3 separate regions of the Homo sapiens genome follow, and regions 1 and 2 are each linked to region 3. A link means that fine-mapping ties the variant in region 3 to the plasma level of a protein whose gene starts in the linked region. Region 3 holds a variant in brackets. A gene starts in each other region. All regions are shown on their forward strands. Region 1 holds the start of KEL (Kell metallo-endopeptidase (Kell blood group)). Region 2 holds the start of HEPACAM2 (HEPACAM family member 2). Region 3 overlaps ST6GAL1 (ST6 beta-galactoside alpha-2,6-sialyltransferase 1).

The links. PIP is the posterior inclusion probability: the model's chance that the variant is causal. Protein levels are from antibody-based Olink assays in UK Biobank. Linkage for the fine-mapping came from a reference panel and not from the study's own genotypes, which makes the PIPs less certain.
Region 1: KEL starts here. The variant in region 3 is fine-mapped to the plasma level of the KEL protein (UK Biobank, PIP above 0.99).
Region 2: HEPACAM2 starts here. The variant in region 3 is fine-mapped to the plasma level of the HEPACAM2 protein (UK Biobank, PIP above 0.99).

The regions. Positions count from the first base shown.
Region 1 is chr7:142,959,502-142,970,207 of GRCh38, forward strand. KEL (Kell metallo-endopeptidase (Kell blood group)) reads right to left here and starts at 2,862. Exons shown (of 19, transcript NM_000420.3): 1 at 2,703-2,862; 2 at 2,294-2,371; 3 at 1,859-2,000; 4 at 1,427-1,603. The coding sequence starts at 2,705. RefSeq lists a silencer at 2,626-2,821 and a cis regulatory region at 4,944-5,345.
Region 2 is chr7:93,221,109-93,231,896 of GRCh38, forward strand. It overlaps HEPACAM2 (HEPACAM family member 2), which reads right to left and starts at 5,361. Exons shown (of 10, transcript NM_001039372.4): 1 at 5,260-5,361. The coding sequence starts at 5,338.
Region 3 is chr3:187,018,133-187,028,522 of GRCh38, forward strand. The region is part of intron 2 of ST6GAL1 (ST6 beta-galactoside alpha-2,6-sialyltransferase 1); the gene reads left to right. Among named protein-coding and RNA genes, the nearest start is that of ST6GAL1, 93 kb to the left of the region's middle. RefSeq lists a promoter at 3,270-3,847, a cis regulatory region at 3,754-3,847, enhancers at 3,850-4,119, 7,729-8,058 and a silencer at 6,086-6,175. The variant G/A (reference allele first, on the strand shown) is at 3,757.

The DNA.
Region 1 (10,706 bases), not on the chromosome of region 3:
AAAAGAGAGAAATGAAAGACAAAAGAAATGATTGAAGAAATTAGACAAATTCAGGGAACTAGAGAACTTTAAGGATTTGGAGAGAAGAAAACTCATAAGGAAAGGTTTAGCAAAGAGAAGAAACAGGGGAAGACTCTTCTAGTCCAGACTCCTCATCCATTGATCCCAGGAAACAAACACACTACAATAATCAAATGCAAGTCTCTCTGAATCATCCACCCTCTAATATCTAACACTCTTTTCACCCTCAGTCCCCCTGATATCTATTCATCCCATTGTAGGCAATATAATTTATCCTGAGCATATTTTTTCTTTTTATCTCTGTGCCTTCCCTGAAAGTATCCATTTACCCAAAGAGAGGCCCCCTCCCACTCTTTCCCCATCAAAAAAAGAGGGCAGAGGGGTGCATTTACTTTTCCCAGATTCTAATTGATAGTGTCAACACATTCTTTAGGTTCCCTTGCACTGGAAATGCATGTCTATCTTATATGTTCTTATTCCCAAATCCTCACCACCATCCACCAACTTCCTGGGACGCACTTCCAACCTCCTACTCAGTTTCAGCTCATCCTTCTGGTTTTCCTCTCAGTCCTGGCAGTTTTCCTCTCCAGCCTCCATCTGCAGGAACTTTACTTCCACTGCCAATTAACTCAGCTCTCCTCTTCTTCCAGCATATCCTTTGTACTTACCCACTTTTTCTCTTATGCACAGTGATGAAGCCCTCTCTCACTTCTCACCCCACCATCCTACCCCTTTCATTCCACCATCATCCATCATCTCCAATCATCCATCTCTAACATCCCACTTGTTCCAGGTCAACTTGCTTGCCATGGTTCAAGGTTTCAATGGAGAAGCAAGAAGCAAGAGATCATTGTGAGAGAGGGGAGCTCCGGCATGGTGAGAGGGAGAGGGTAATGTTGACAAGGAGTCATTGGGAGACTGAGGTTTTGGAGGTTAGAGAATGAGAGTGATGGACAAAAGAATTGAAATGCAGGAGATGCTGAAGAGATGCTTGTGGAGGAAAACACCATGCATAGGATAGAAACTGAACATTTGGAGGAAGCAACAAAGATGGAGCTTGCTAAAAGGGACAAGTTGGAGAGAATGGAGTAATTATGGATACATGGAGAAGCAAAGAAGATGGAAATTAGATAAAGAAAAAAATGCAGAAAGGGACCAAGAGAAACGGAAGAAGGGTACCCAAGGCAAGGCAACAGGAAACAGTGAGAGATGAGCAAACCCAGGCAGCTCCCGCCATCCTGCCTCTTTTACTCCCCCATCATCTCCAATCATCCACCCGTATAATCCCACCTGGGATGGTGCAAATCAGTTGTTCCACAACTACACAGGGTTTGGAGCAGTCATGGTCATTTTAGGCACAGAGTCACCCACTTGCACAGAGCATCTTCCACCCTGCTTTCCTCACCCAGTATTCTCCGAAGTCGGTTTTTGTTCTTTGTGGCAAGCTCCTGAAAAGAATTATTGGTCTCTTTGGCCCTTCCACAGGCAAAGCTGAAGAAGTCGGTGCAGGGGGCCACACTTGTGTTCCCAGAGGCCAGGTAATGATCCCGGAGATCCAAACACACAGATGTCTCACAGGGGCCTGTGGGGAAAAGCTCAGAGCTGGGAAAGAAGAGGCAAAAAGACAAGGGCTCCCCCAAGGGGCTAGGCAAAGAACATCAGGTGAGTAACTAAGTGGGGAGCTGATGAAAAAGAAATGGTTAGGATGCAGGGAGGAAGAAGAACCATGGGGACCCCAAGGGTCAGGGTGGGCAGAAGCCCCAGGAGCAGGGACTGGGCCTGGGCCCCAGGGCTGGGGGAGGGCTGACTAGGTTAGGGGGTCTGGGATCTTGCTTACGAGGGCCACAGTTCTGGAAGTTGTAGAACAAAAGCACAGAAAAACAAAGGAGCAGGCCCAAAATCAGGATAGCTGTCAGCACCCGCCTGGCCACTGCCCATGGCCTGCTCCCTTCCACGGGCAGCCTCTCTTCTGGAGTGCTCTGTGGGAGGAACCAAGAGGTGAAAGATACAAGATGGGGGTTGAGAGACAGGGATGGGAAGAAGAGGAGAGAGAATGAATCTGTTGGTGCTACAGTCCCTTTATACAGAAATAATTATCCCAATTCTTCCTAAACCCAGCCCTACTTTAACTCCTGGGAGATGAGAAAACAAGGAATGTCAACTGTTTTGGGTGAGGATGAAGCAGACAGTTAGTAGATGAGTGTTTGTGGGATTTTAGAGCCGAGAGTGACAACATCAGTGTATTCCAGACCCAGGAGAGGAGGCCACTTACCTCTTGGCTCCAGAGAGTTCCCATTCCACCTGCCTGGCTGCGTTCCCTCGGCTCTTCCTCACTTTGGTCCCCACCTTCCTGAAGTGAGTGGAGGGAGAAGGAGGAGAGAGAAGCTGGTTCAGGAAATGGTGCATTGAAGAGAGTTTTATCAGGCCATTTTGATACCCTCGCTGCCTGCCCTGCCCCCACACACATATTTTTATCTCGGAGCAGTGTTCCCAGATGGGCTTCAGAACGAACCTGTCCCCTGAATGTGCCATTTCTCGATCCCTCTCCCATTACCTCCCTCTCTCCCCACCTTTCTACTCTGTAAGCCTTACATTCCCTCCCCTCCAGTGGGGGCAGGACTTTTGCACACAGCCACCCTCACCCCTCCCCGCTAAGCCTCTGACTCCAAAAGGGGACTTACCATCTGTCTATCTTCTGTGGCTCCAGAATCCTTCCTGGTTCCACTCTAGGAGCTGATTCGGAGGACTGGGGTCCAGGAAACACCCCCCGCCCCAGTTCCTTGATCCTGGAGAAGGGGCACTTCTGCTGCTCTTTCGCCTTGTCCCCAGACACACAGGACTGGCCTCTGGGTGGAGCCTGCTTATCAGTGGGGGGCACCCAGGCTTCTCCTCCCCCTTTATCTCAGCTTCTCAGGGGAGAAGAGGGAGGGAGTCTTCACTCCCCAAGCAATCTTGCCCTTGGTCTGCTCCTTTTGTCTTGCACTGTGACTCTGCCCATGAAGTTCCTTTATTTCTAAAATATTCTTCCTTCTCTCATTTCTTCTGTATTAAAAAAAATATGAGGCACAGTAAAATTTTAAAGAGTTTATTTAAGTAAGAAGCAATTCATGAATTGGGGAGCACCAGACCGACAAAGGTTTAGTGTTGCGATGACAAAATGTCAGAGGCAAGCATTTATTGGGAAGTTATAGAAGCAAAATGAAACATTATTTGCTTAGTTTGCAGTTACATAATTGCATTTTTTAGGTAACTTTTTGGAAAGTCCCTAGTCACATAATCATATGTTAGTTGGCTGCTTATCATTGGCTGGGGTTAAGTTTTATTTGTTGTAAGCATTTATCAGAAATTGACCCAAGTTAAGTTTAATTTATGTTTGTAGTTTTAGCAAGAATATGGCTATTTTTAAGGTCTTTGGCTTTGTTTGCCTGGGAATTTTTCAGGCCCAGTCTCCATTTTAATTTTGTTTTCACACCTCTCTGATTGGCTTTTCTGGGATTCATCAATTCCCAGGTCAAATGCCACCTTTCCCAGGAGGCCTCCCAGCTCCATGCCCATTCACACTGTTCCCAAGCATGCTTAATTGTTTCTCTCGGTGTTTCATAGCTCTGCTGGCTGCTGGCAAAGTCATGCATTCAAAAGATCACCCAGCTAGGAGACCCTAATCTGCTAATTATTAGCTCTGTGACAATAAACAAGCCACTTAAACTCTGAGGCAGGTAAGCAAGTTTTGTCATCTGGAAAATGAGGGTAATACTTGCCTATGCCTACCTCATAGGATCTCATGCCTTCTACAAAAGAATAAGGCTTTACTGAGCCCCTCTTTCTTTCATTCTGCTTTCTGTTACACTGATAGCTTGCCTCTTCATCTCCTTAGTGATTGAAAACTATGTCATAGCATGTACAGTGTCTGGTTTTCATTCCTGCCCACCCAAGATGCTTTCTAAATGTTAATAGAAATGAATTGCATTCCAAGCCAGAAATCCTCTTTCTCACATCATATTAAGCCCTTACCTGTGGTCTGAGAGAGGCAAGCACATTTCTGGGGGAAGGTGTTTCAACTCTGTCCTTGTTTCCTCATCCCAGGAAAAAAATAATGTAATTTATTAGGTTAGTCTTGCAAATGATCCCCTGGCGATATTTCCAGATTCCATCAGCACTGTGCTAGGGCCATGGTGCACTTGCCAGGATGAGGGTGGGTGTGGAGAAGTGGAGTAAAGCCATTGTGCCCCCTGGGGCCAGCTGGTCGGGTATCATGAAAGTCATAAAGAAAAGTCAGAACTTCATACATTAGAAAAGAAAGCATTGGGAAAAATAAGGCTTTTGAGGAAAGGTGTGGCAAGATACAATAATATCTAAGAAACGCCGGTGTGGTATTGGGGATCTGGACTGATTGGATAAAAGACAAGAAACAGAGTGGTTAGTTTGGTGTTGCAGGAGTGATGAAGGGAGGGCCCGGCCCAAGGGGATGGCAGAGGGGAGGGAAGTGCGTAGAAAGAAAAATTGTATGGAATAAAGTCATGGCAATGGATTGAATGGAGGAGGGGTTTATGATAGAGCCACAGAGGAGCTCCAAGTTGCATTTCTGCATGACTAGGGGAATAGTGATGCCAGCGAACAATGGAATTTTGATTAAGGGGGGAGTAGGAATCAGAGTGAGGGGAAAAAGCTGACTCAGGATTCTAGAGGTGTTTGGTCTGTGTGGGTACACCCTGATGGTGCCTCCTCTTCAAACTTCCCTTCCACAGAAAGTCCAATACTCTCCCCATGGGCTTTTAGCTTCCTTCACACATATTCCCTTCCTCACTCCTTTTCTATCAATCAAAGCCCCTGAGCTGATGTTTCCCTAGGAAGATGATAATGGAGACCACTTAGATTTGATAAGAGAAAGTTGAAGATGGAGTGTGCTCTGTGACATTTGCCTATGGACAGCCACCACAGCCTGGACTTAGGTTCTCTCCCTGTCAGAGAAGCTGAGCCAGCCACAGGGATAGGGCAGCACAGCTGCCAGGTCCACCATTCCTACTCAGCCTCCTCCTGAAGGCCAAGCAACCTCCATCCTGGGAGCTGTCTCAGGAGCAGGACTTCTTCTTATCACCCATATCCTACTCCATGGTGAGTCATCACCAGCACAGCCATACCCAGTCACGGGAGTGCAGCAGCCTTCACTCAGATCTAAGCCCCGAGAAGAGGTGTGTTAACAGCTGTGGCACATGGACCACATTTATCTTTTCGGATGCTGCCTCCTTCTTGCCCTCAATTGTCCTGTCTGTTTATTTTAATTCCAGGAGGTTTTGTTTCATGCCATAATAGTATCAAAATAAAATATTGGTAATAATAAAAATAACCACTTTTTACGGAGCACCTTCTTTGTGCTAGGAATGTGCTAAATGTTTTGCTTGTACATTTTCCTTCAGTCTTCACAGCAACTTTCTGAGGGAAATAACAGCTTTTATTTTCCCCATTTTATAGATGAGCGGTCAGAGAGATATGAAAGTACAGTGAACTTACTCAAAGTTACAAAATTAATAATTAGCAGAACCGAGAATTGAACCAAAGCCTTAACCATTGAGCCTCTCAGTCACTAAGTATCTGTTTTTTGGAAGTTTCTTCATAGTAAACATCTTCCTTCATCTAAACTCTTCTTTTTAAACTATGTTTCACTGCTTGGCCTTGTGAGGTGACAGTTTTGGGGACTAGTATTCTCAAACTCTCTAACATCCAGTTTCATCATCTGAAGATCATGGCCTTTGCCACAATGTTCTATCCATAATCAGCTGCCATCTACAGTGGATGTGGTATCAAAATCAAGGACAGGACATTAATCTGTCTATTGTGACACTCTCAAGTGTGCACATGACTGGCAATTTGCTTCTAAGATCACTCGATTGCAGTGATAGCCACTAAGAAGCTACCCCCTAAAGAACAATAAACCCAGTTCTGAGTGAACCGAAGTAAGCCTTGACATCACAAGCAATGTTGAGGACTTTGCCCAGAAGATGATGGAGAAACAGATCATGGGGGGCAGGTTTTGGGGTGCACTGATTGCTCTTTCAAAGGAAGCAATACTTGAGAATTGGGGAGCTCCTTTGGGAAAGAGTAGCTTGTAAGTTCAGTATACCACAAAGTGGCTTTTGAAATAATTTAAGTGATAAGTAGATGGACCTCTTTCAATATGTGTGTGTGTGTGTGTGTGTGTGTGTGTGTGTATATATATAAATATATATTTATATTATATATATTATATATATATTTATATTTATATTATATATATTATATATATATTTATATTATATATATATTATATATATTATATATGTAATACATATTATACATATAATATATATAATATATATATATATTTTTTTGAGACTGAGTCTCGCCCTGTCAGCAGGCTGGAGTGCAGTGGCGTGATCTTGGCTCACTGCAACCTCCGCCTCCTGGGTTCAAGCGGTTCTCCTGCCTCAGCCTCCCGAGTAGCTGGGACTGCAGGTGCACGCCACCATGTCCAGCTAATTTTTGTATTTTTAGTAGAGACGGGGTTTCACCATGTTTGCTAGGATGGTCTCGATCTCTTGGCCTTGGCCTCCCAAAGTGTTGGGATTACAGGCATGAGCCACTGCACCTGGTCCAATATTTTCATTTTTATATACATTTTTCTTTTATAGATATATGACTCTAAGAAGACTAAAATACATAGCCTCTGTATTTTTATTAAATCAACTAAAATATACTAAACAAATAATAGCTGTATTGGTACTTGAATATGTCAAAAACTTGAAGAAAATGCTCAGAAGTCTGGAGTTTTAATTATGTATGGGTAGAAACAGCTCAAAAGGAGGATCTTTGTCCTTTTTTATTTTCTTTTTGGTATTTTCTACATGCCACCACATTTTTCTTCCTAATCCAACAGGTTTTGAAGATAGTACTCTGAATACAGAGACTCTAATAAGTTGTGTCAATTCAACATATGTTTCCTCAAGAAAATTTACATAAGTTCTTGCTAAAACCAAGGTCTTAGTCAACTACTACCATAATAATGCTTTGTTACAAACCACCCAAAACTCAATGGTTAGAGGAACAAGCATTTATTCTTTTTTTTTTTTTTTTTTTTTTTTTGAGACAGAGTTTTGCTGTTGTTGCCCAGGCTGGAGTGCAATGGTGCAATCTCGGCTTACCACAACCTCCGCCTCCCAGGTTCAAGCGATTCTCCTGCCTCAGCCTCCCGAGTAGCTGGGATTACAGGCATGTGTCATCACACCTGGCTAATTTTGTATTTTTAGTAGAGACGGGGTTTCTCCATGTTGGTCAGGCTGGTCTCGAACTGCTGACCTCAGGTGATCCGCCCGCCTCGGCCTCCCAAAGTGTTGGGATTACAGGCATGAGCCACCGTGCCCAGCAAGCATTTATTCTTATGTTTAAATGTCTCACTTGGAACAATGAGAAACAAAAGAATGGGACAAGCTGTGTGGTCTCCCTCTTAGCAAATGTACCAGTTACTTATTACTCCATAATAAACAACCCCTTATTTGGTGGCTTAAAAAAAATTGGCTCTCCATTCTATGGATTGGCAAATTAGGAAGAGCTGAAGTATCCTCTGTGCTCATTTGCATCTTTGGTTTCACATAGCAGGCCATTTCAGGGCTACCTAGTCCAGGATGGTCTCACACACATGGTTCTTGGTTGGCTGGGGCTGTTGGCCAAGGTGCCTCAGATCTCCTCCATGAGGCCCCTCTAGCAGGCTAGCTTGGGCTAGTTCCCATGGCAACTAGATTCTAAGAGAGCAAGAGTAAATGCTGCAAGGATCTGGAGACCTAGGCTTGGAGTTATACAATATCACTTCTGCCATATTCTATTTGTCAATTCAAGTCCCAAGGCCAGCTGAGATTAAAATAAACTCCACCACTTGAGGGGAGGATTTGCAAATAATTTGCAGTCATGTTTAATATGCCACAGGAGAAAGACAGTTTTCCTTTGAAGCAACCTATCATGAACAGATCACTGAACCCGGGAGTTGGAAAACTTGGTTTTCAGTCCTACATCAGTTTTAAAGTAGCTGGGTAATTTTTACCTACTTTTTTTCACCTCAATAAAATCTAGCACTGAAAACCTATGTTTCTAGGTTTCTAGTCTGGTCTCTGTTTCTTTTAAGGGGGACTTTAAGGTCCCAAGTCTTCTAAAGTCTCTTAGGTTTAAGGTCAAAGCATTAGATCAATGTATGGCAACTGATTCTCTCCCCCTTAAAGATGACCATAGATGAAAGAAGGAACTATCTAAACCCACTAAGCCAGTCCTGAAAGTGCTGGCCAAGGAGATTAAGTAGAGGGTCATATAGCAGCTATTGGGACTCTTCCTTAGGAGATACTTGGTATTTTTCCATTGCCTTGGCATGATTTGTTGTTGTTGTTGTTTTGTTTTGTTTGTCCCTTCTTCTATTCTGCTGCCTAGAAGGAAGATGTTTCCTTCTAGGAAGATAAGGATGACAGGAATGAGGTTCACACTTGGGGGAACTGTTAACCTCTTGAGCTAGAAGGAACCCAGCATCTGGGTGCTGTGGACGTTGTGGAGAAAAGTGGCCATGTCGGCTCTAGACTGCATCTCTACAAACTTTTACATGTGAGAAAATTACTATTTTCTTTAGGCTACTGTAGTTTCTTTCTATTACTTAAGACTAACTTTAATCCTACTAATAGATAAATATTAATACCTAAGATAAATGAGGTTTGACCATGTCTACCTATTCAGTGTTGTTAGATACAGATGACCATGTTGCGAACTGCACAATTTTAAGGATTGACAATTACATGAACTAAAACGTGCATGGTTTTCTATAGGGTTGAGCCACACAACAACCTTGTACCTAACAACTAGTATGATGTGGAAAGAGGAAGTTGATCTCATACTAACGTGTTGTTCCTATACTTCTTGTTGGTTCACTCAGAGACCTCAATATTCTTGCTCAAGTTGTTCAACTTGTGTTTTTTCTCTTTTCTTTCTTTTATACACAGGGTCTCGCTCTGTCACCCAGGGTGGAGTGCAGTGGTGCAATCTTGACTCACTGCAGCCTCAACCTCCCAGCTGTATGACCTTGAATTGAACACCTCTTTTTGAGATGGGGTCTCACCCTGTGACTCAGGCTGCAGTGCAGTGGCATGATCACAGCTCACTGCATCCTCTCCCGGGCTCAAGCAATCCTTCACCTCAGCCCCACCAAGCAACTGAGACTACAGGTACACACCACCACACCCGGCTAAATTTTTGTTTACTTTGTAGAGATAAGGTCTCACTATGTTGCCCAGGCTGATCTTGAACTCCTTGGCTCAAGTGATCCACCTACCTCAGCTTCACAAAGTGCTGAGATTACAGGTATGAGCCCCTGCACCTGGCCACTTTTATAAGTCTATAACTGTTGGAATCCTCCCAAGAAAATAGAAACAGCTCTAGGTATTTCAGAGAAAACTTAATACATCTAACTAGATACATAGGTAATAGAAGAATTGAGAAGTTAAATGGGTGGGGGAGAGAAAATGAGGCAGTCCTAAAATTATCAACAGAAGAAAACTACCACAAATCTTTAGTTTAGAGGAACAAAGAGGAGAAGGGGTGTTACCAGAGTCTGGGAGTTGTAGCACGTGCAGAAGATGGACCATTCTGGACCTTCTCAGCAAGCTGGGATCTTAGAAGAAAGAACTATTTGGTGGGAGATGGAGCCACTGTGGACATATGCCTGCCCTTGGAGGTGCCCCCTGAGGCAGAGAGAGAAAACAAGAAACATCCTGGTTTCATCTCTGCTTCCACCCTCTTCCCCTTGGCTGAATCTTTGCAGAAGTCAGAAAGAAAAGAGCCTGGGGAAACAGTTCCTCGTGATACAGAGCAGAACAGAGGAAGCCAGGAAACTGACCTGCAAACAGGCAAATGACTGGCACAGAGTATTTGTAGGAGTATTTGATTTGTGCGTAAAGGCACTGGGAACACGCAGTACTGCTTCATAGCCCAAGTTACCACGGGTGGCTCAAAGCTGAGCAGAAAATGCTCTTTTATGCAGAACTCCTCAGTATCTTGAAAATTAGATGTTTTTATTATCTGGAAACAGCATCCTTGAAATAGACATTGCTATTCTTATGATAGTCTGCAACAGCAGTAATAAAGGTAAGCCTCCTTCAAATACCTCTGTAGATAACAGACATTAACTCAGAGAAATAAGAGCAAAAGAAAAATAACACAGTGGATGCTGCATAGTAACCACAGCTGACTGGATGATTTATTTCCTGTGAAAACCTACCCCTCAGGGAATTCCAAAAACACTTGAAGTGAACTTTTTGGGAGAGGCAAGAACAGGATATTTGAGGTGCTGATGTTCATATGACATCATGTGTATCCCCAGATGAATGGATCAGGCATCATTTGAATTCTATGAATATTTACTTCAAGAGTGTAGTCTTTATTAATAAGCAAGCTTGGTCTATGGTTTTTCTTTTTAAAATGTCATTTTTATAGCCTGGGCAACATAACGAGATCTCATCTCTATGAAAAATTTTAAAAATTAGTCCTAGCTACTCAAAAGGCTGAGGCTGAGGTGGGAGGATAACTTGAGCACAAGAGTTCAAGGCTGCAGTGAGCTATGAAGGCAGTGACTTTGTGACTTGCAGAGTGAGATGACTTCCCCTGGGTTTTCATTTAGCCTCATA
Region 2 (10,788 bases), not on the chromosome of region 3:
CAAAAATGTGAAATAAAGAGAGTTTTTTGCTATTGGGAATGTTTCACTGGAAAGGGAAATGTTGATGAGGCAGAATAGAGATGGGTGAAAGTGGAATAAAATCCTTAAGCAGGTGAGAAGAGATGGAAATTAGATATAAATAGAAGCATTTTACAATTTTAAATTTCTCAAGTACAAAATGTTCATCCTCTTTGATCGCTTCCACTTTTTCATTTTTTTCTACATTTTTTTGATTTCATTCTACTAGAAAGGGAGTCCTCAAGCTTCATCCAAGTCATGTCATGAAAGGCCATCAATTTTAAAAAGGGAAAGGTAGAAAGATCTGTTTGCCTTTTGTGATTATTTCCTTGGAAAAACTCAAAGATGTAGGCCTGTTCCTATGAGGAATCCAGTTCTACCAACAGTAAATTTATCTCCTTCCTTCCCAGAGTGGAGGTAGAAGCAAAGATTCCCACAGTTTGGGCCTTTGGCTAGCTATTAGTAGAGAGTGAGACTCTGGGGTTGGCAGAGAAGTTAGAGGAAAGAATCCAAGAGGAGAAAACACCAAAGAGGAAGATAGTTAGTTAGAGGGAGAAGAGACTCCTAGACTTGCAACTGAAACTTACCATATGGACTGAAAAGCAGATGACTGTAAAAGAAACATAAAGACATGTCTTATTGTCTCATTGGCCTCTGTGTGTTTTTGTGATTAACTTCTAAGAATTTTTTTTTCTTCTGATAATGGACCTACTTGCACACTTTGGTGATTGGTCCATAACAAAGCAGTTACAAAGATGAGAATTCCCTTCTGTATTCTTTTCTGCCAAGTGTAAGACTATTAAATCTGGAATTTTTCCTAATTTGAGTGATTAGAAAAAGAGAAAACTGGGTGCTGGGAATTCTAAAGAGGAGATAAAGTGGACTGCAGAAAAGAAGTAGTGGTTTTCGCAAGGAAATAGTAGGAGAGAGAAAGAAAGATGGGAGAGAGAAATCTATGTCTCAAAATTAGTGATGTCTAAGATATGTGAAGCAGAGGCTGACAGTCGGGGTGAAACTCTTAAAGTCATAGGTTTAGTAAGACATTGGGCCTTTGGATGGGAGATCAGCACAGGAAAAGATTCCTCTTTGTCTATCTGTTTTCTGTACAAAACAAAATGCATTTATATGTCTTTCATTGAAGTTGAAGATAGGCAGTTCCTGACAAGTTCCTGGTAAGCGACAACAAAAAAAAATAGGCTTAGTACCTGTTATTACTAACTTAAGATATGTAAATTGGACCTTTCACTGTATTAAGTGTATTGCTCCCTCCTTTTTTTTTACTTGTGTAAATATGAAAATATTTACAAGTGTTTCATGGCTCACTCCTGATCTTGGACTCCCATGTTCTATGTCCGCCATTGAGTCTTAAATTTATCACTTGCAAATAGCTCTAAAATAATGATTTTCAAGCACCTATTCTCTTAACTTGAAGATTACTGTGCTTGTTACTTTAATAAAGTTAAAGATCTACTGAAATATGAAGTCCTAGTAAAGGACACATACTTGGGGTAAAATGGTGATTGGTCAGTTATGTGACCTTAAATAAGTCATTTTAATTTTCAGACTCAGTTTTCTCATGTGTGAATAGGAGGTAATATCAGATAAGGTGTAAGGCCTTTCTCGACTCTCTTAATTTTATGTTATTGACAACCTGAGGTGCTTTTCTAAGGGTAGCAGCTACCTATATTTGAAGGTGAAGGGCCCAGAGAGTTTTGAGAGGACCCAAATTGAGAGAGGGCCTAAATAATTTTGAAGAATTGAGTCCCAGTTTTTGGTTCATATATTAAGTTGTCAATCCTTGGATATCCTTTAATAAAACAGCAATTCTGTGTTTTTTACAAAGAAATCAAGGGGAATGATGGAAGTCTGTATAATTGCCTTGGGAATGCACTGGAAAAAGCTGCATGGCTGCTAATAGGGAGCAGCTTTGTCATGGATGTGTTGGTTCACTTAGGACATTTCACAACTCAGCCTAGAAACCACCATTAGGCTGAGAAGGTCTGAATGGATTCTGACCCATTTTGTGCTTGTCATTTGGGAAAGCCATTGCAAAAGTCCTTCTCTGCTTTTTTTGTAATTGACTTCCTTTGTAGTTATATTTGAAAAGATTGAGATTTATTTAATATTCTGGAAATGGTTGGGAGGCACTATATTACTATGGGGTGACAATATTGCTGGAATAGAAATGTTGATGACTTTTGGATCTTGACCCAGAATGTTGAATCTTAAATATGAAAAGACTGGTTAGAGAGTCCATGACTAAAATTATAGGAGGAAAATTTTATTTAATGAAATATTAAATACAATACAAATATTGAAGCTCTGAGAAAAAATAACACTACATTAGTAGAAAAAGATATTTAATATAGCGTTTGTGATCATTATTTAGGGGAAAATTAGTTTTGGGGTCTATTTTAGACTGCATCATGTAATAATACCTTAAATAATATATTGCCATCAATATCTCTGAATAGGTTCAGTGCTTTCTTATTAAATGAAAAGTTTTTTTCAAATATGTATGCTTTTTCAAATGTTTGTGTGACAGTGAGAAATAGCACAGCTGTTACAGTAACTATTTGCTTAGAGATTGCCTATACAATTTTTTATCAGATAAATTATAGGTAGCAAGTTATAAGAATGTCAGCAGGGAATGAAATTTTCTTTATACAGTATCTTATCTCAGCCACGTAAAATCTCTTCATTGGACATGAACCTATCAATATGATACAATCTTTGCTTGTAGTGAAATTTGGGAATAAACAGATAATTGAATGCTTCCTCCACATTCTAGGAACACATACTCTCTTATCATTGATGTGTCACCCACTACAGATGTGATGAATTCATGCTGTCAAACACAGTAGTTTACTAATGTGAGAAAACTTAGCTTCATTTTGAGAAATTTTCAAGTGCTCTTTTCTAGTTGTATGAGAAAACCCAAAGGACTAAACCTATTGATTTTAGAAAATCATCCTCTGCATGAACAGATAAACTTCAAGAAAATAAATAATATAAAAAGGTTGGTTGTGGTGGCTAATGCCTGTAATCCCAGGCACTTTAGGGGACTGAGGTGGCAGATTGCTTGAGCCCAGGAGTTTAAGACCAGCTTGGGCAACACAGCGAGACCTCTGTCTCTATTTGAAAAAATACAAAAACAAAAATAATAAATAATATAAAAATTGATGAAATTTAAATTTATTTTTAGTAGTCCAAATATTTGGACTTAAACGGAAATTTAAATTCGATTTTATTATTATATTCACTATTACTTTCTGAGTATAACAAACAAAAACTCTTATAAATTATAGTTCTGTTAAAAAAATCTTGACTTTTTGCATATAAGGCATTACACAAATCTGGAGAAACATTTATAATACTAATCATAATCTGACATACAAAATTGCAGCAATGATCCCTCCTTTACAGACCCTCTTACATTGTATGACAATAGCACTATAAAAAAGTATCCAGTGTTAAGGTACACTTGAAGTCCTACTGTAGAATTTATCTATATTCCAGCAACAAAGGACTCCCTAGACCGGTTTCATTGTATTGAATATAAACATCAGATTTCACAAAGTGACCTCTGCTGTAGCTCAAAATAGCTGGCATTTACTTCCCTGTTATCATGTGTGGTATTAACAAGCATAACACAAGTATTGTTGACTGAAAATAAAATCTTGCATCTTTAGAGAAAATAGAAATTATGATGTGTTTTGAATAAACTGTACAAACTGTACATTTTAGGCTTCAAATTTTTAAAAATTTTTTAAAAAGAAGAAGCAAACAAAACTTCAATATTCCTAAAAGCAAAGATTGCCAAGTCATCTGTGGTCTTTACAACACACTGCCTATGGAGAAAAGCAAATTTGCAGAAGAGAGAAGGTCTTAAGGTATAAAAACTGCTTTAGCTATTTATGAACATGCTATTTTCCTAATGTACATTTGTTTTATTTTAGTTGAATTCCTTAACTAAATTGTCTCTAAGTTCTTCTTAACGCCAGTTTCAAAAACAACACTTATAAAATGATAGTAGTCCTACTGTTTTAAATATAAAAATAAGTGGGATGATGACCCAGGATACTTTCAAAAGGAAGACAAATGCACAAAGGTAGTGACAGTTATAATAATTATTTACTTTTTCAAAAAATTTTAGAAAACAAAAATCTATTATAGGCTTAAATTTGATAACATAAATACTGTGATAACTGGAACAATCACAACTCTGGGAAACTCAAAGACTTAAAAAAATTTACAAACTGTACATTTCAAATGTGTGAGATAGGTACAACAGTAGGTATGAATTTGAATAATAACATTTACAATGCAAACTTTAACAAAATATAGGAGTGAAAGTAAAGCTCTAAATAGCTGAAGAAGCCTAAAAGTTAAATTGCTTATTTTGCTAAGCTGTTCTTAATTTTTAAAAAATGTAGCCTTAATTGAACTCCTATCTGTTGAATATAAACAAAACAAGAAATTGATTTGACTTTTAAAACTGATAAATAGGAAGAATGGAAATGAGAACATCTGGTGAAAATAATGTTGACAGACAGCAGTTGGAATGCTGGAAAGAGACTCCTTTAAACTCAAAAGATAAAGAGGAGAATGAGGGAAAATATTAAGGTAGAAAAAAATTCTTAATAGGACTAGCCATTGGGCAAAGAGAAAAGCTAAAGGCATTTTGGAGTAACAATCTTTTCAAATACGTTCTCCCTTTTGTGTAGGAAATTTTTTTGTTAGTTTGGAATCTTACCTTTCTTCCATATTTCATAAGATGAGACAGATAACTTAAAACGAAGCAGTAAACAGTTTGCAACAATATCTTTAATTAAAAAGAAAACAATTTTCGTAAATTATTTGTAGTTTCACTCTAAGTGGTCACAATTTCATGGCCTATTAGAATATTTGCTGAAATAAATGCATTAAAGACTATTGAACCTATATGTAAACTCTAAAAGAAGAAATTCATTATCTTTTAAAAATATCTGAATTATCTTAATGAGTGCTATGACAATAATTGTTGTTCCAAGAAAACAATAACAATCTATTTATTGAAACTCATTTCTCTTAAATGTTCCTGCTTCTTTGCTGTAACAGTGTGTTATTGTTAAAAGGTTCTGACCTGCTCTTCAATTATCTGAATGCATCTACAGCCTAAAGCAAATATTTACCTTATGTCCACAATTAAAAAAAAAAAACCTAACAAACAGCTAAAACACAATTCACACAGGGCCTTACCGAAGAGAAGGAGGTATATTTTGCACTGAAAGACCCCAAGTGTGTCACCGAAGGGCTCCATGAAAGCATCCTGTCCCATGCATGCAGTGCCCTGTTCTCAGTGGTAACTTGGACCAGCAGCTGCTGGTTTATTTGCTAGGGAAATTAGCAGTGAGGTAACAGACCCTATCTTGCCTCTTGCTTCTGTGATTTGAATACAGAATGAATGTGTATACAAAGGACACAGGGAGTGGGAACACCTGTTATGTGCTTAGCAAGAATACAGGCTTATGGCTTTCAGAAGAGTTTCTTAGCAACTACCAGTAATTGTCTATATATTTCATAAATTATACTTAGTTATTAAAAAATCACATGAAGGAAAACATCCTTTTGCGTGACTTTACTGAAAAATGGCATGTTTTCATAATGAAAGAATATTGTGAGATTTCCTTAAAAACAAAAGCTGGTTTTCTATCATGCAGAACTATGCCATTATTATTTTAAAATTAAAAAAAATTATATGAAAATTGAAGTAGCTCATGTATCTGCTAAACAGTTATAAATCTTCATGAAGTCACTAACATGTAAAAATTCTACCAATGAATCAAAAGAGAGATCCAGAATATATTTAAAACGTATTTTTTCTATGCAGTGTTTCCTATTACAATGACTGATTTCATTTAATCTTTGAATTCATCTTATTTTTAAAAGCAAATCACAGGTGTGTTTCCAACTGGGACTGAGGCATGGACCATGCATAATTATAATGAAAAGTGCATGCCAGGAGATAGTATCTGAGGCCACATTTTCACAGCTGATGCATAGAGGAAGTGAACCAATGATCTAGAAAAGATCTTACCTCTACTGCAGTGTCCAGGTTACAGGTTTTCAACCTGGTCTCTCCATTGTCATGGCAGCAGATAGTCTAAGCATGTCCGCTTAATTTACTAAGTTATTAGTTAACCCCTATTTGCAAGAAGGCTCTGGTTCTAGCCTTGTTATATAAAATGTTAAGGATATATCCAAATCTGCATCAAATCATCAAATCAAGGAAAATTCCTTGCATGCATCAGTTTTAACAGTAAAGGCCCACTGAAGAAGTTCAATGATAAGAGGGGAAGGAAGACTATACCTCAAGCATAATTAAAGTAAAAAAGGAATGATAGTAACTTTGGAATCCAAGTTTGGAAACACTCTTTGCATTAGGGCTCTGAACTCTTCTAGAAGGACTTCTATAAGCAAAGAAAGTAAGTGACTATTGGGAAAACGAAGTCCTCTTCAGAGATCAGTCACTTTCAGATCCCTCCATGCTTCAGAAAAATGGCAAGAGCTCCTCATGCTTCCCCCACCTCCCTGCAAAATAATAACAATGCCACAACTTTCTCTGCACTGTCTCTAAATCTGGTACACACATCTATTGCAGCACTTATCTCCTTAATCTTTATTTTATTGGATGTTTATTTTCCCTCTGAGCTCTCGAATACAGAGAATAATCTTATTCATTCATGGATGTTGGGCACGTAGCATAATGCTTAACTGGTATTTTTGTTAAGTTGTTTCTCCAGAAAACAAAACTCTAAGTGCTCCTTGGCCCGTCTTACGATTCTCAGTTGATGCGTAAGAAATACAAATAAATTTTAATATTGGATTGCACAAAATACAATTTGGAAAGTAATATGGAAGTTCTACAGATATCACATAGGTTCCCCCAACATCTTTTAGATTGATATTAATCTCCAATTGCCGTTATCAAATTAGCTGTTTTCAGTGTTTTTCAATCTAGTGCTGGATTATAATGAAGTTTGTTGGGTCCCTGGCAAAAAGAGAAATAAAGACAATGTACTGTGTTTTTCCCTAGTGTTAAATATACTCAATATAAAGGAGTTTTTTATTCTGAGATTTTCTTTGTTGTATTTGAAAATATTCCCTGTTTCATGACATAAGGTGATAGTAGATGCTACATTAAAAAATAAATGCCATATGAATCTTACTTGTAATCTTTTTATTTCATGGCACATATTGAAATATAATACGGCACATCTAGGGAAAGGGCTACTGGGATAATCATGACAAAGCGCCCTCTAGTGGTAAACTGTAGATATAAACTCTTACCTGCTGGAGTAACTTCTGATTTCAACATGTTTACACAGGAAGTGAGAAAAAGAGTGCTCAAGCTTAACTTCAACAATTGTTAATTTTTACATGATTCTTAAAAATAGTTTGAAGGTTTTATAATTATAAGAATTTTCCTACCATCCATATCTCACATCACACCTGTAACCCACTGGGAAGTTCTGCTGTTATCATTCCAGTCAGGAAAAAAGGGCCTGTAGTGTTACTGTTTACCAATCTTAGTTATATTTGCATTTAAAATGAGAAGGCTGATTAACCTAAAACAATCTATATCCACGGTGATTAAACTGCAAGCAATGTAAGGAGCCACTGGGATAGAGTATGCGTGTGTGTGTCCACGTGCATTTACAATGGGATATGGACACATATACTCCTGTGCAGGAGGGTGTGTGTGTGTGTGTGTGTGTGTATGTGTGTGTATGTTTGTTGGGGGCAGGGATTTTTATTACCTCTCAAATCACACTACACAGTTTACAATCTAGTTTATTTAAATTGCAGACTGGTATTACTTCATACAGTAAATGTCTGCTGCATGCATTTCAAACATCCACATTTTTAATCACAAGTAGCTAGCACACGCATGTTTTGCAGTGGCAGAAACAATTAAGGAGAGGTGGTGAAATGCCAAGGTCAATGTAGATGCAGAACAGTGGGGAATAAGAACTGGGGAAAGAAATGTTTCTTATTGTTGTAATTAGTGGATTCTCTCCAGTTTACAGGGAGAGTTAGCTGCCAGAGGAGGCTATCACATATGCCTATGCCTGTGCTAGTGTTCACTTCTGTAAAGTCTACAAAGCTGCCTCGTGGAAGCCTTGATCTATCTTATATGGCTGCTAAATACTAAGCAGTAATGTCTTCTTCCTGGGCACCTCTTTAGGTCACTACTTTACCTTTGGCAAGTGTTCTGTTTTCTGTTATGGCCTGCTCAAGAAGTGTAGTCATATCATCTTGGAGGGGCTGCATCTCTCCACTGCTTTGGTATTTGTGGAGTGGTAAGAAATTTTATCTTTCTAATCAAACCAGGATCTCAGCTTTTATTTAAGCTTCCAGACATTCCTCCTGTTTTGGGCCATTAGTAATATGCCCTTATCCTACTTTACTACTAATCCTATTGTTCTGAATCAGATCAATTTACTTAACTCTTGGCTCTGCACTCCTTTACCAAGGAATTGGTATCCAGCCAACCTTCCCCAGGATTTGGTGGCAGACCATCTAAACTTTCCATTATTTTGCACTGGACTATCACTAACAACAGCTCTCAGGTAAATGTGAAAGTCCTGAATAAATCTTAAAAATAAATACCTTTTTGAAAATTGGAAAGGAAATAGCAGCATGTCCAACCTTTTAAAAAGTGTTTGTTAGGATGCCAAGTTTTTTGTTTTTTTGAGCGTAGACAGATAGAAATGAATAACGTAAGGTTCAATTATTTCATATAGTGTTAAGGTATGCTGAATTAGAAAATATAGTTTATTTAGACACCAGCGCTGATTTACTTTACAAGCTTTCAATATTATAGTTATAGCCTTAAAACATTTAGAAGACTGTATCCATTTTTATCCATTTCTCCAGTTTGTAGGAAATAAACTAAAATGTAGAGTTTTGGAGTAAAACAAAGTTTCAATACTTTCTTGCGTTTTCAGTGTCGAATAGATAGGGATAACACTCATTTTTCTGAATTTGGCCAATAGAAATACACATATTAGATAAAAAAAACTTTTTGGGGGGATCATCTTTAACTTTGTGTATTTGAGTATGTGAGGGAGAAAATTCCGGGGTTGAATCTGGGTTCTAGTCCTAGATCAAGCTCTCATGAAATATGTGGTCTCGAACCCTTATACAGATACGTTTTCTCATCTTTACAGCATGGATTTGACATGCTAGAGCTGGACTGCCTTTAAGAATCACTGAAGATTTTAAACAAACAAACATCCCCAAAGAAAACAACAATAATAACAGCACACACCTCAGGTGAATCTGAACAGTCAGGTTTGAGATCTACTGAACTCAGATCACCCCTAAGATATGCTTTTAAACCCAGTTGTGAACTCCTTGTGACCACAACCATAGATTATTAATCAAAGTGCTTATTTTAGTGTTGCCTTGAGCGCAACAATCAAGAAATGTTTATTGACTTGGGTTTTATTTTATAGGCTAATATGGCTGGCAGTTTTTGTTTCTTTTGATGCTTTCAGGGACTTCTAAATATTGCAGATTTTCACACACAAAGAACAGTCTGACAATTAAGATTAGAGAAGGTAAAGAATAAACTAAACTAGACTTGCCCTAAATGTGACCAGAATTTCTTGAAGGGGTTAGAAATAACAGAGTCAGAGAAGCATATAGGTAAACATATAATTTCAAAGGAATTGCTGAACGCAGTGATGATACAAGTATGCACAAGGTGGTTCTGTTGGAGTAGAGAACTGGGCAGAATCAAAACCAATAATACCTCATAATTGTATAGTGCTTTACAATTTATACATTTCATTCACCTACATCATCTCACTTATCCTTACAAAGCCCTATATAAAATATTAAAATATTACAACCTCATTTGTAAAAATTAATAAAACGAGGCTCTAAGGGGTGAGAAAATAGAATTTCAGAATCAGAAATAACCTCTGTTAGTGTCCCCCAAACTTCAGTCATTTGCAAATCACCTTTATTAGTTTTGCCATATCTGACTACCACCCATACTATTGTTTACCTAGTATTTTTTATTACGTTGACACACTTGAACTTTTTTTATTCTAAGAAATATTTTTGAAATTATGGGTCTGTGTCATACTTTTAGAAGTTAACATTATAATAAAATAAACTTAAAAAAATTGGTGCCATGCTTTAGAACTTTCTTCAGCACAATACATGAAAATCTTAACACATCTGATGACCGATTAATCCTTCAGTTTCTACTTGCACATCTGCAGTAATCTTAGGCAAGTTCCTTAATTTCGCCATACCTGCTTCGTCATCTTTAAAATGGGAACCCACAGGATTCTTGTGTGGATAAATGAAATCATATATTTAAAGCTATTAGCAGTTCCTGACAGGTACTCGGCTTTCGATAAGTGTTAGCTATCATTGTTAGCTTTAGGGCTGCTTTTTCTTCTTCTTCTCATATTCTCATAATTGTAAAGTCCTTTTAAAATTGTGTCCCCAAAGACACTTCTGTTCCTTTCCCCAATTTAACTAAACTGCCAAAAGTTGAAAAGAGGACTTTAAAGTGACAGGTATACTCGTTATTGTCGTATTTCCCGTCATCACTGCTTTAGAGTACGGAGGTAAAATAATAGGCGGGCGTCAAAATCCTTCGATTTTAGAGCTTTTGCAGGGGATACCAAGACTGAGGTAGAACAGCCCTAAACCTGGAGGGCCGCCTATTGGGCAACCTAGAGCACACCTTTCCTCAGGCCAAAC
Region 3 (10,390 bases):
GGCAGGCTGGTATCTGTTTGATCTGATACTCCAGAAAAATCGTAATTTTACATTGTTTTTTTCCTGATTTCTAAACACATGAAACCAGATTCTTCTGGAGAAACATAGAGTGCCTTAATTTTGCCTAGTTAGGGGCTGTTGGGGGTGGTTTTTCTAAGCACCCTTCTGTGTCTAGCCAACCAGTAGAACCTGATTTTTGGGAGGTGAATTAGCCAGGGTTCTCTAGAGGGACAAAACTAATAGGATAGATGTATTTATAAAGGGGAGTTTATTAAGGAGTATTGACTCACACGGTCATGGAACTATGTGAGGTCCCACATAGTCCATCTGCAGGTTGAGGAGCAGGAAAGCCAGTCCGAGTCCCACAGCTGAAGAACTTGGAGTCTGATGTTCGAGGGCAGGAAGCATCCAGCACAGGAGAAAGATGTAGGCTGGAAGGCTAAGGAAGTCTAGTCTATTCACATTCTTCTGCCTGCTTTTTATTCTGGCTACAATGGCAGCAGATTAGATGGTGCCCACCCAGATTAAGGGTGGGTCTGCCTTCCCCAGCCCACTGACTCAAATGTTAATCTCCTTTGGCAACACCCTCACAGACACGCCCAGGATCAATACTTTGCATCCTTCAATCCAATCAAGTTGACACTCCGTATTAGCCATCACAGGGGCATGCTAAGCAAGAATTGTGTCTATGGCTGTAATCACAAAGTTACGATTATTGGAGTAAGCTCCACAAACCAGAGTCCCTTGTCCAGGGCCTCCAGAGATCCACCAGACACTTGAGTATCTCGAAAAGCCAGATGGGAGAAGCACGTTCACCACGGCAAACCTGCGCAGCCAAGAAAATCAAGTTTCTTTGTTTTATGCTAAACTTTTATCAACTGACTGTGGTAGTCGTGGCAATCTCATGCCATTCAGAACCTCTGATTGGCAACAGTATCTTTGTTCATTTGATAACAAATAACTCAAATTTTAAATTAAAGTTAGTCGACAACATCTTTCAAAATCTTGGAATCGTGTCGGGGGAAACAAAATACAAGAGATATGATTTGATGTGAAAGAATTTAGGACCTCTTGGCTTTGATTAAATTAGGGTGTGCTTCTGTTGTTTCACTGGGATTGTGAAATGTTGGGATGAGGAGATATGAAAAATCTATAGCTGAATATTCTGTTGATGGTTTTAAACCATAGAAATAAATATTCAGGAAGTCTCTATTGAGTAGCTCTATAGGGTAATGCTAGCTGCTAGAGCAAATAAACTCACGTCTTAACCATCTTGGCCCAGAAGTGATGTATGTTATTTTTGCTCACATTTCTTTGCCAATAACTAGTAAAATGATCCCATCTATATGCTGTGTGTGTTTGTGTGTGTGTAAAATGCAATCCCTCTCTGGACAGTAATTTACAGCAATAACTATATGGCAGAAGGAGCAAACTTCTTGTGGGGCAGCCAGCTATCCCTGATATGAGGAAAGAGAAAGAAGGGTCAGCATTAAGTGGCAGCTCAGGTGGCACACATTAAGAATCCAAGCTCTTAGAGAAATGGGAGTCCTTCATGGGAGAGGGTTTCTGGCAGCCAGGACACATGGAGCCCCTCTCGGAGGCACTATGCCACCCTCTGGGGGCAACAGGGTGTCAAGCACTCTAAGTCTAAGAACAGAAAGTTTGGGTTCTAAGGTCCAGATGAGGGTGAGGTTTGTGCACTAAAGATTAAGGAGATGAAGATCAGGGCAGAGTAAATAGGTGTCACCAGAAGGTCAATACAGTGATTAGCAACTGTAGTTGGTGTGATAAAGCAGAGAGGCTCGCAGTAGCCCTTGGAAGGGCCTGAGTAGAGGGACATAGGATGAAGAGCACTACCAGTTTGTTGGTTAGAATAATCTGGTCAGCCGGGCATGGTGGCTTATGCCTGTAATCCCAGCACTTTGACAGGCTGAGGCGGGTGGATCACGAGGTCAGGAATTCAAGACCAGCCTGGCCAAGATGGTGAAACCACGTCTCTACTAAAAATACAAAAATTAGCCGGGCGTGGTGGCGGGTGCCTGTAATCCCAGCTACTCGGGAGGCTGAGGCAGAGAATTGCTTGAACCTGGGAGGTGGAGGTTGCAGTGAGCCGAGATTGCACTGCTTCACTCCAGCCTGGTAACAGAGCGAGACTCTGTCTCAAAAACAAACAAACAAACAAAAAACAAAACACACCGTGGTTTCACCATTTACAGTGACATCTTGAGCAAATGACTTAAACTCTCTGAGTTTCAATTTCTTTATTTAAAAAAGAGGATTGTTAATACCCCACCCCACAGGGTGGTGGTAAGAATTAAATTTGGTAACATCTATAAGACCTGCTGTTCATTACAGTTGATTCTTAAGGCAGCATCCGGTGATGCCTTTGAAACATACATCGGCAAAGTCTTAATCAGATGAAAGCCAAAACCCCTACACCTGTGTAAGGCGCCACATTATCTGGCTGCCCCTGTGTAGGTATTTTGCTGTTCCCTCTACTTGCAACCCTCTTTTCTCAGAAATCTGCATGGTAGCCTCCTTCATCTCTGTTAACAGAAAAACCAAATTCTGTAAAATATTTTCAAGAAGTTTATCCTGAGGCAATATGAGTTACTGTAGCTTAGAGAAAACACAAACCCAAGAAGCCTTGAGTGAGTGGCCCTGAGGCAGTTGGGCCATAGTCTGGTTTTATACATTTTAGGGAGACAGGCATTACAGGCAAGGATATCTGGAAATCAGTACATGGAAGGTAACTGGTAGTTCTGTCCAAAAAATGTGAGACATCTCAAAGTGGGGGAGGGTGCGGTGTTAGGATATATGTATTGGTGGTTTTTTTTTTTGTTTTTTTTTGAGATGGAGTCTCGCTCTGTCACCCAGGCTGGAGTGCAATGGCGTGATCTCTGCCCACTGAGCCTCTGCCTCCTGGGTTCAAGTGATTCTCCTGCCTCAGCCTCCTGAGTAGCTGGGATTACAGGAGCATGCCACCACGCCCGGCTAATTTTTGTATTTTTAGTAGAGATGGGATTTCACCATGTTGGCCAGGATGGTCTCGATCTCCTGACCTCGTGATCCACCTGCCTTGGCCTCCCAAAGTGCTGGGAATACAGGCGTGAGCCATCATGCCTGGACTATGTGTTGGTTTCCATGCATGTTTCCTGGCGCATAGCCCCATAGCCCTTGCTACAGTCTTGCTAGAATGCTGGGCTTTTTAGACTTCAGGGACAGGCCCTAAGAAACAGTCTCTCTCCTGCCGTCCTTTCACCTGCCCCAAGGCAAGGTTTTTATGTTTTCTGGCCTGACTGTGGGCCTTACAACCCTCCCATGAGGCCAGGCATAGTGGTTCATGCCTGTAATCCCAGCACTTTGGGAGGCCGAGGTGGGTGGATCACCTGAAGTCAGGAGTTCGAGACCAGCCTGACCAACATGGTGAAACCCCGTCTCTACTAAAAATAGAAAAATTAGCCGGGTGTGATGGTGGGCGCCTGTAATCCCAGCTACTCGGGAGGCTGAGGCAGGAAGAATTGCTTGAACCCGGGAGGCAGAGGTTGCAGTGAATCAAGATCATGCTACTGCACTCCAACCTGGGCGACAGAGCGAGACTCTGTCTCAAAAAAAAAAAAAAAAAAAAACCTTCCCATGAGAGGTTCCTACCCTATGCCCTGGGGGAAGAAATGCTGACGTCAAGGAAGCTTCTATAAAAACCCAAGAGGACAGGGTTGGGTGAACTTTCTGATAGCTTAATAGGAGGAGGTTCCT[G/A]TAGGGCGGCACAACCAGGGAGGGCGTGGAAGCTCTGCATCCCTTCTCCCATACCTTGCTCTACACATCTCTTCATCTGTATCCTCTGCAGCATCCTTGATGATAAACCAGTAAATGTAAGTAGGGTGTTTCCCTGAGTTCTGTGAGCCGCTCCAGCAAATTAATTGAACCCACGGAGAGGGGAACCCCAATGGAAGCTGGTTGGTCAGAAAGAAGTTCTGGAGGCCTGGACTTGTGACTGGTGGAGGGGGGATGTCTTGGACACTAAGCCCTCAATCTGTAGGATCTGACACTATTTCCAGGTAGATAGTGTTGGAACTGAATTAGAGGACACCAAGCTGGTGTCGCTGCTTGGTGTTGGGGTGGGACCCCCACACATATGGTCACATAAGTCATCTTCTGTGTTGATTGTTGTGGTGTGAGAGCAGAGGAAAGATGGCTACAGAGAGTTTTCCCTACACAGGGACTTGGGGGGTAGAGGGTTAGGGGAGGGCTGAGGGGCCTTACAAGTCTTAAGTGCGTTTTAGGGATTCTTTAGCTAACAGTAGCTGAGAGAGTCAAGTTATTGTCTAGTGACTTGAAGTCAGTAGGAAGGAATGCCTGAGTAAGATAAGGAGGTTGTGGGGGCCTAGGTCCTTGGAGCCTCATAGATAGCAGCCCTCTGGGTGAATAGATAGTGATTGTCTCTTCTCAGACCTTTGGGTGTCTGACTCTCAGTTAGAATCTCTCCTAGATCTGGGAAAGGCCTAGCAAGGGAAGAGACATTAATATCGATTCTCTGGAGATGCACGTTTCCCCCACCAAAGATGGCTTTGCAGTCCAAAGGCTGTCTGGCAGCCTTTTCCAAATATGTCAAAGAAATGTATTTTGGGGCAAAATATTTTAATTTCCTTCAGAGTCTGCTGTCTGTCATGTGATACTATACCAGAGTCAGGTTGGAGAGTAAGCCACATTTTACTGGGTTAATTAAAAAACCCATTTAATGAGACTGTATTGTTTCTAGGGTATGACTTAATCTTTGCCTTTTATGGCCTTAGGTATTGTGTATAGTTTGGTATCTTATTGTCATAAAGGGTCTGTTTGGTCAGTCTTATAATCTCTATTTTACCTTAATGCTGGTCACTTGTACCTAAACCCCAAAAGGGAGGGGTATGATGAGGGTGTAACCTCCTTTCTGTCATGGCTGGGAATTCAGTTTTTCAGGTTTCTCTGGGGTGCCCATGGCCAAAAAGGAGTCCATTCAGTTGGTTAGTGGGGGGCTTAGGATTTTATTTTTGGTTTACACCTCCTTCCAACCCTTGCTCAAATGTCTTCTTCTCAGTGAGGCTTTCTCTGATCATCTGATTTAAATCTCCACCTCACCCACTCCAAGCTGTCCCTATTTCTCTTCCCTACTCTAATTGTCTGCATATCAGTTATCTCCTTGCAAAGCACCACGGATTTATGTTGTTTGACTCTTTATTTATCCTCACTATAAGGTGAGTGCTGGAGGGGTTAGGGATTTCTGGCTGGCTTCTCTACTGCTGTGTCTGCAGTCTGGTTCACAGTAGGCAATCAGCATTTGCTGAAAGAATGAACCTATAGCTTGGAACCAACCCAAATGTCCAACAATGATAGACTGGATTAGGAAAATGTGCACATATACACCATGGAATACTATGCAGCCATGAAAAATGATGAGTTCACGTCCTTTGTAGGGACATGGATGAAGCTGGAAACTATCATTCTCAGCAAACTATGGCAAGGACAAAAAGCCAAACACCACATGTTCTCACTCATAGGTGGGAATTGAACAGTGAGAACACATGGACACAGGAAGGGGAACATCACACACCGGGACTGTTGTGGGGTGGGGGGAACGGGGAGGGATAGCATTAGGAGATATACCTAATGCTAAATGATGAGTTAATGGGTGCAGCACACCAACATGGCACATGTATACATATGTAACAAACCTGCACGTTGTGCACATGTACCCTAAAACTTAAAGTATAATAATAATTAAAAAAAAAAAAAAGAATGAACCTATCGCATGAGTATTGGTGTAAGTTTTCTTACAGGCCCCGGGGCCACCACAAAGTAGAAGAACTCAACCTTCCCTATTCATTTCCTCACCTCCAACTCCCTTAGACTACCAGGACTTAGATCCTTTTGGGTATATATATACATATATATGTTTTATATATATACATATATACATGTTTTGCTTGTTTGTTTGTTTTTTGAGACAAAGTCTCGCTGTGTCACCCAGGATGGAGTACAGTGGCATGATCTCTGCTCACTGCAATCTCCGCCTCCAGGTTCAAGTGATTCTCCTGCCTCAGCCTCCTGAGTAGCTGGGACTACAGGTGCATGCCTCCACGCCTGGCTAATTTTTTGTATTTTTAGTAGAGACGGGGGTTTCACCATGTTAGCCAGATGGTCTTGATCTCCTGACCTCGTGATCTGCCCGCCTCGGCCTCCCAAAGTGCTGGGATTACAGGCATGAGCCACCGCGCCCAGCCTAAATGTTTTATATATATATATACACACACACATATACTCTATATATATATACACACACACATATATACACATATATATGTGTATATATATATATATATATAGAGAGAGAGAGAGAGAGAGAGAGAGAGAGTATATGTGTATATATTTTAACAAAAAAAGCCTGGGAGAACCATTGAATTTGAAACCACCAAATCTCAACAAGCCTTGAAATCTAACACTCAGTTTAAGGAAACACAGAGCAGAGAGGAGAACATTAAACAACACCCTGAGGAAGCCGTGAGCCAGGCTCAGAACATAAGCCACTCCACAGGAGAAATGACTTCATTTTTTCAACAAATATATGCCGTGGAAAAGAAGAAGTAAGGGAGCGAGGAACTCTTCTAGATAAGAGAGAATTGAAAATGGCACATCATCCAGTCATCCAAACAAAATGTCCTGTCCTTGTTTGGATCCCCTTTTGAGCAGGTTAGTGTAAAAGACATTATTGAGAGAATTGGTAAACATTTAAAGGTGGGTTGGATATTGGGTGATATTGGCATTGTGATCATATTGAATTATTATTTATATTCATATATTCTCTGGCAGAACCTGGTGCGTGTGTGTGTGTGTGTGTGTGTGTGTGTGTGTCTGTGTGTGTGTGTCTCACAGTGTAGAGAATCTGAGGGTCTACGTTCTCAATTCTCCCAGGGGTGGTACGATTCTGCCAGGGGTGGTACGTAGGTAATTCTCGATGCCATGGGAGTTAGTTGATGCGTTGCATACAATGGAGGTCTTAGGACATTAAGGCTTAATTTTTTGTTGGATCCGCAGTTGGGAAGAGCTGGTAGCAGGAAACTGATACAAAGTCTGGCGTTTGCTTTAAATTACTCCAAGAAAAATCGAAGCAGTGTAGTAAAGATTAGGAGGTGAGACAGTTCCTCTTTCTGAGGAGATGGCGGGCCCGTTTTCTTCTTTGTCTGGCTCTCTGTAGCATAGGGGTGTGGTGTAGTGTAGGGATGTGGAGGAAAGAGTGGGTAGCTGTGTTGCTGGGGAGGGGTGAAGTGTTTTTTCCACTCTCTATATAGGCCCTTCCTGCGCTCTCCTCTGCTTAATGCTGATTTACCAAGCGGAGTGCAAATTGTGTGGTGAGCATGTGGGAGATGCCTCCTGGGGCTGGGGTGTGTAGTGGGGAGTGGGCATTATACAGAAAGGGAATTCATGGGGCACGAAAGGCCTACTTTTTGCCAGGCACCTGTCAAATAGGAAGGCAGATATTTCTATGAATACAAGTCTGTCTGTCTGTGCATGGGGTGCAAGGGTGAAGACAGTAGCAAATGGCTCATGATTTCCCTTTGCCATGGCTGTGTCAATCTGGAGTTCAGAGCTCTCCTAATCAGTTCCGAGTGGTTGGCTCTGGTCAGGGACCGCAGCCTGACCTCATGGTGGGGACACAACACCCCCCAACAAAGTTCTGTTCTCCAGACTCTTAGAAAACCTCTGGGGAAATGTACTCAGGGAAATGTTCTGAGGACTTCATTATCAGTGCTGCCTGGCTGGGAAAAGATGTAATCTCTGGTAAGAGACCCTTGGCAGGAGTGAAAGCCCTTTATCTTCAGGGCTTTGCTCTGGGCAGGATCTCCCCCTCCCCACCATGAGCCATGCAGGTGGGCCTGTCCTCAGGTAAACACTTGCCAACAGTCACAGCCTCTCAGGCACTGCGCGCCCCTCATGGCTTCCTTTCTTTCACTGTCTTCTCAGATTCACCAGCTACAAGTCGGTTTCTTGTTGCATATCATGCTTCTGACCTTTGCTGCGCTTTTGAGCAAAACGGTGACTTGTCAGAAATGTTTTGACAAATGATTAATGTTTTGACCCATGTTGGTTCCCGCTTGATAGAGCTCGGTGGGTAGGAGCTGGGGTGGTAGAGCCAGACAGCCTGGGCAGGCTCCTCTGGGGACTCTGTGAAGCACATGGTGATAACAGTGCTCGCCTTGGGCACTGTTGTTGCTGCAGGAATTAAATGAGCTTCACCAAATTACAGGACCTTTACTGCCTGTAAATTACTTAGCACATAGTAAAAGCTCATTAATTATTAGCTAAAATAAAGTGATAAAAATCTATCATTAAATTGTCAGCACAGCCCTGCAGAGGCAACCTTTTAAGTATTGTTATCCTTCGCAGATGAAGACACAAGGTTCACAGAAACTGACTAATTGGCCTAAGATAACTTACAGTACAAAAGCCAGGATTTCAATCTAGCTTTTTGAGACTAGAGCCTGAGTGAACTGTTTCTCCAAAGCCAAGGCTTCTCAAACTATTGGTGGTGAAGAACCAAATTTTTTTTCCCAATTCCTCTCACATCAGTAGTTACGTAAAATACAATAAAAATGGGGCCAGGTGCGGTGGCTCACGCCTGTAATCCCAGCACTTTGGGAGGCCGAGGCGGGTGGATCATGAGGTCAGGAGATCGAGACCATCCTGGCTAACACGGTGAAACCCCATCTCTACTAAAAACACAAAAACAAAATTAGCCAGGCATGGTGGCGGGCACCTGTAGTCCCAGCTACTGGGGAGGCTGAGGCGGGAGAATGGAGTGAACCCTGGAGGCAGAGCTTGCAGTGAGCCGAGATCTCACCACTGCACTCCAGCCTGGGCGACAGAGGGAGACTCTGTCTCCAAAAAAATAAATAAATAAATAAAAAATAAAAAATAAAATAAACAAATAAATAAAAAAGCATGGATTCCAGAATCATGAAATGAGAAAAAGGACATTTGAAATACAAGCCCCATTTTAAAAAGTATTGATCTAACAGGCATAAAATTACTCTTTAAAATTACTGTAAAAGTCACTTACACTCCATTTCTGTACTTTTCTCATCTTGCATCTTGAAAAGCTTTCTCAGCCTAGCACTTCTCTGCAGATCTCACTTTCAGTAGCACTGTTCTCAGCGACCTGTTTCTCACCACTTGCCTGAGAATTAATTACCTGGGGTGCTTATTAAATGCAGATTTCCAACTTCCCCCCAATATTCTCCCAACCTCCCAGACTACTTGAATCAGAATGATTGAGACAGAATTCAGGAACCCGCATTTTAACAAGTGATTTTAATAATTTGGGTGTGCTCTAAGTCTGAGAATCACTGTGCTCCTCAGTGTTGCCTCCTCTCTACAGATAACAGATAAGAGGGTAAATAGTGAAGTGAGTGCAGTGTTTTATTCCGGCCCCCCTTCTTGCCCCGTCTTCTTTTCTCAAAAAAAATTTTCAAAGGCTTCCTTTCTGTAGAAGCTCACTGACAGAACCGACTTTCCGGACTCAGTGCACTTCAACAAACAGGTATTGAGCTCAAACTGCAGGGGGCTGGGTAGGTGGAGAGCTGACCGCAAGATGCTCACAAGCAGTAGAGGGTGAGTATAGGTAGAGAAAGGGCAGGTCTAGGGCATTTCTGTGCATAAAGTGGGGCAGAAGAGAAGGAGCCAGCAACGAGACCAGTAAGGCATTACCGGTAAGGCAGAGAAAAGCCAGGAGAAGTATAGGTTTTGGAAGCTAGGTGAAGAATATGCATCAAGGAAGAGGAAGTTATGGACTGCTGATGAGCTGAATAAGATGAAGACTGAACATTGACCATTTGGTTAGCAATGTGGAGATCGTGGAGGTCCTTGTGACTCTGACAAGATCAGGTTCATGGAGATGGGGAGGCCTGGTTGGAGTGGGTTCAAGTGAGAGTGGGAAGATAGCTATTGCAAACAAGACTATGGACTGTCTTTCAAGGAGTTTTACTGTAAAGGAAAGAGAAATAAGGCATTTTAAAGAAGAGAAATGAGGTCAAGAGGTTTAGGGTCAGGGCAGGGAAGTGGAGTTTATTTAGAACTCATGCAATAAGTGGCTCAATATATGACTTCTCTAAAGTCATATATCTTTTAGTTAATTCCTTGAGTAAAACAGAAACAATTGTCTATCGTGACTTTTTTCTTCAAGCTCTTTAAAACTCTCCCCACTCCCAAACTATATCACTGTCTAAGAAGAAAGGAGTTTGAAAATCAGTCTTGTTACATAGCTTAATTTGAATACATCCAAAAAATGACATTGCATTATTTTCATATTTGCTGAATCTATTTTTTGGCTGGAGTATTTTAAAGTAGATTTTTAAAG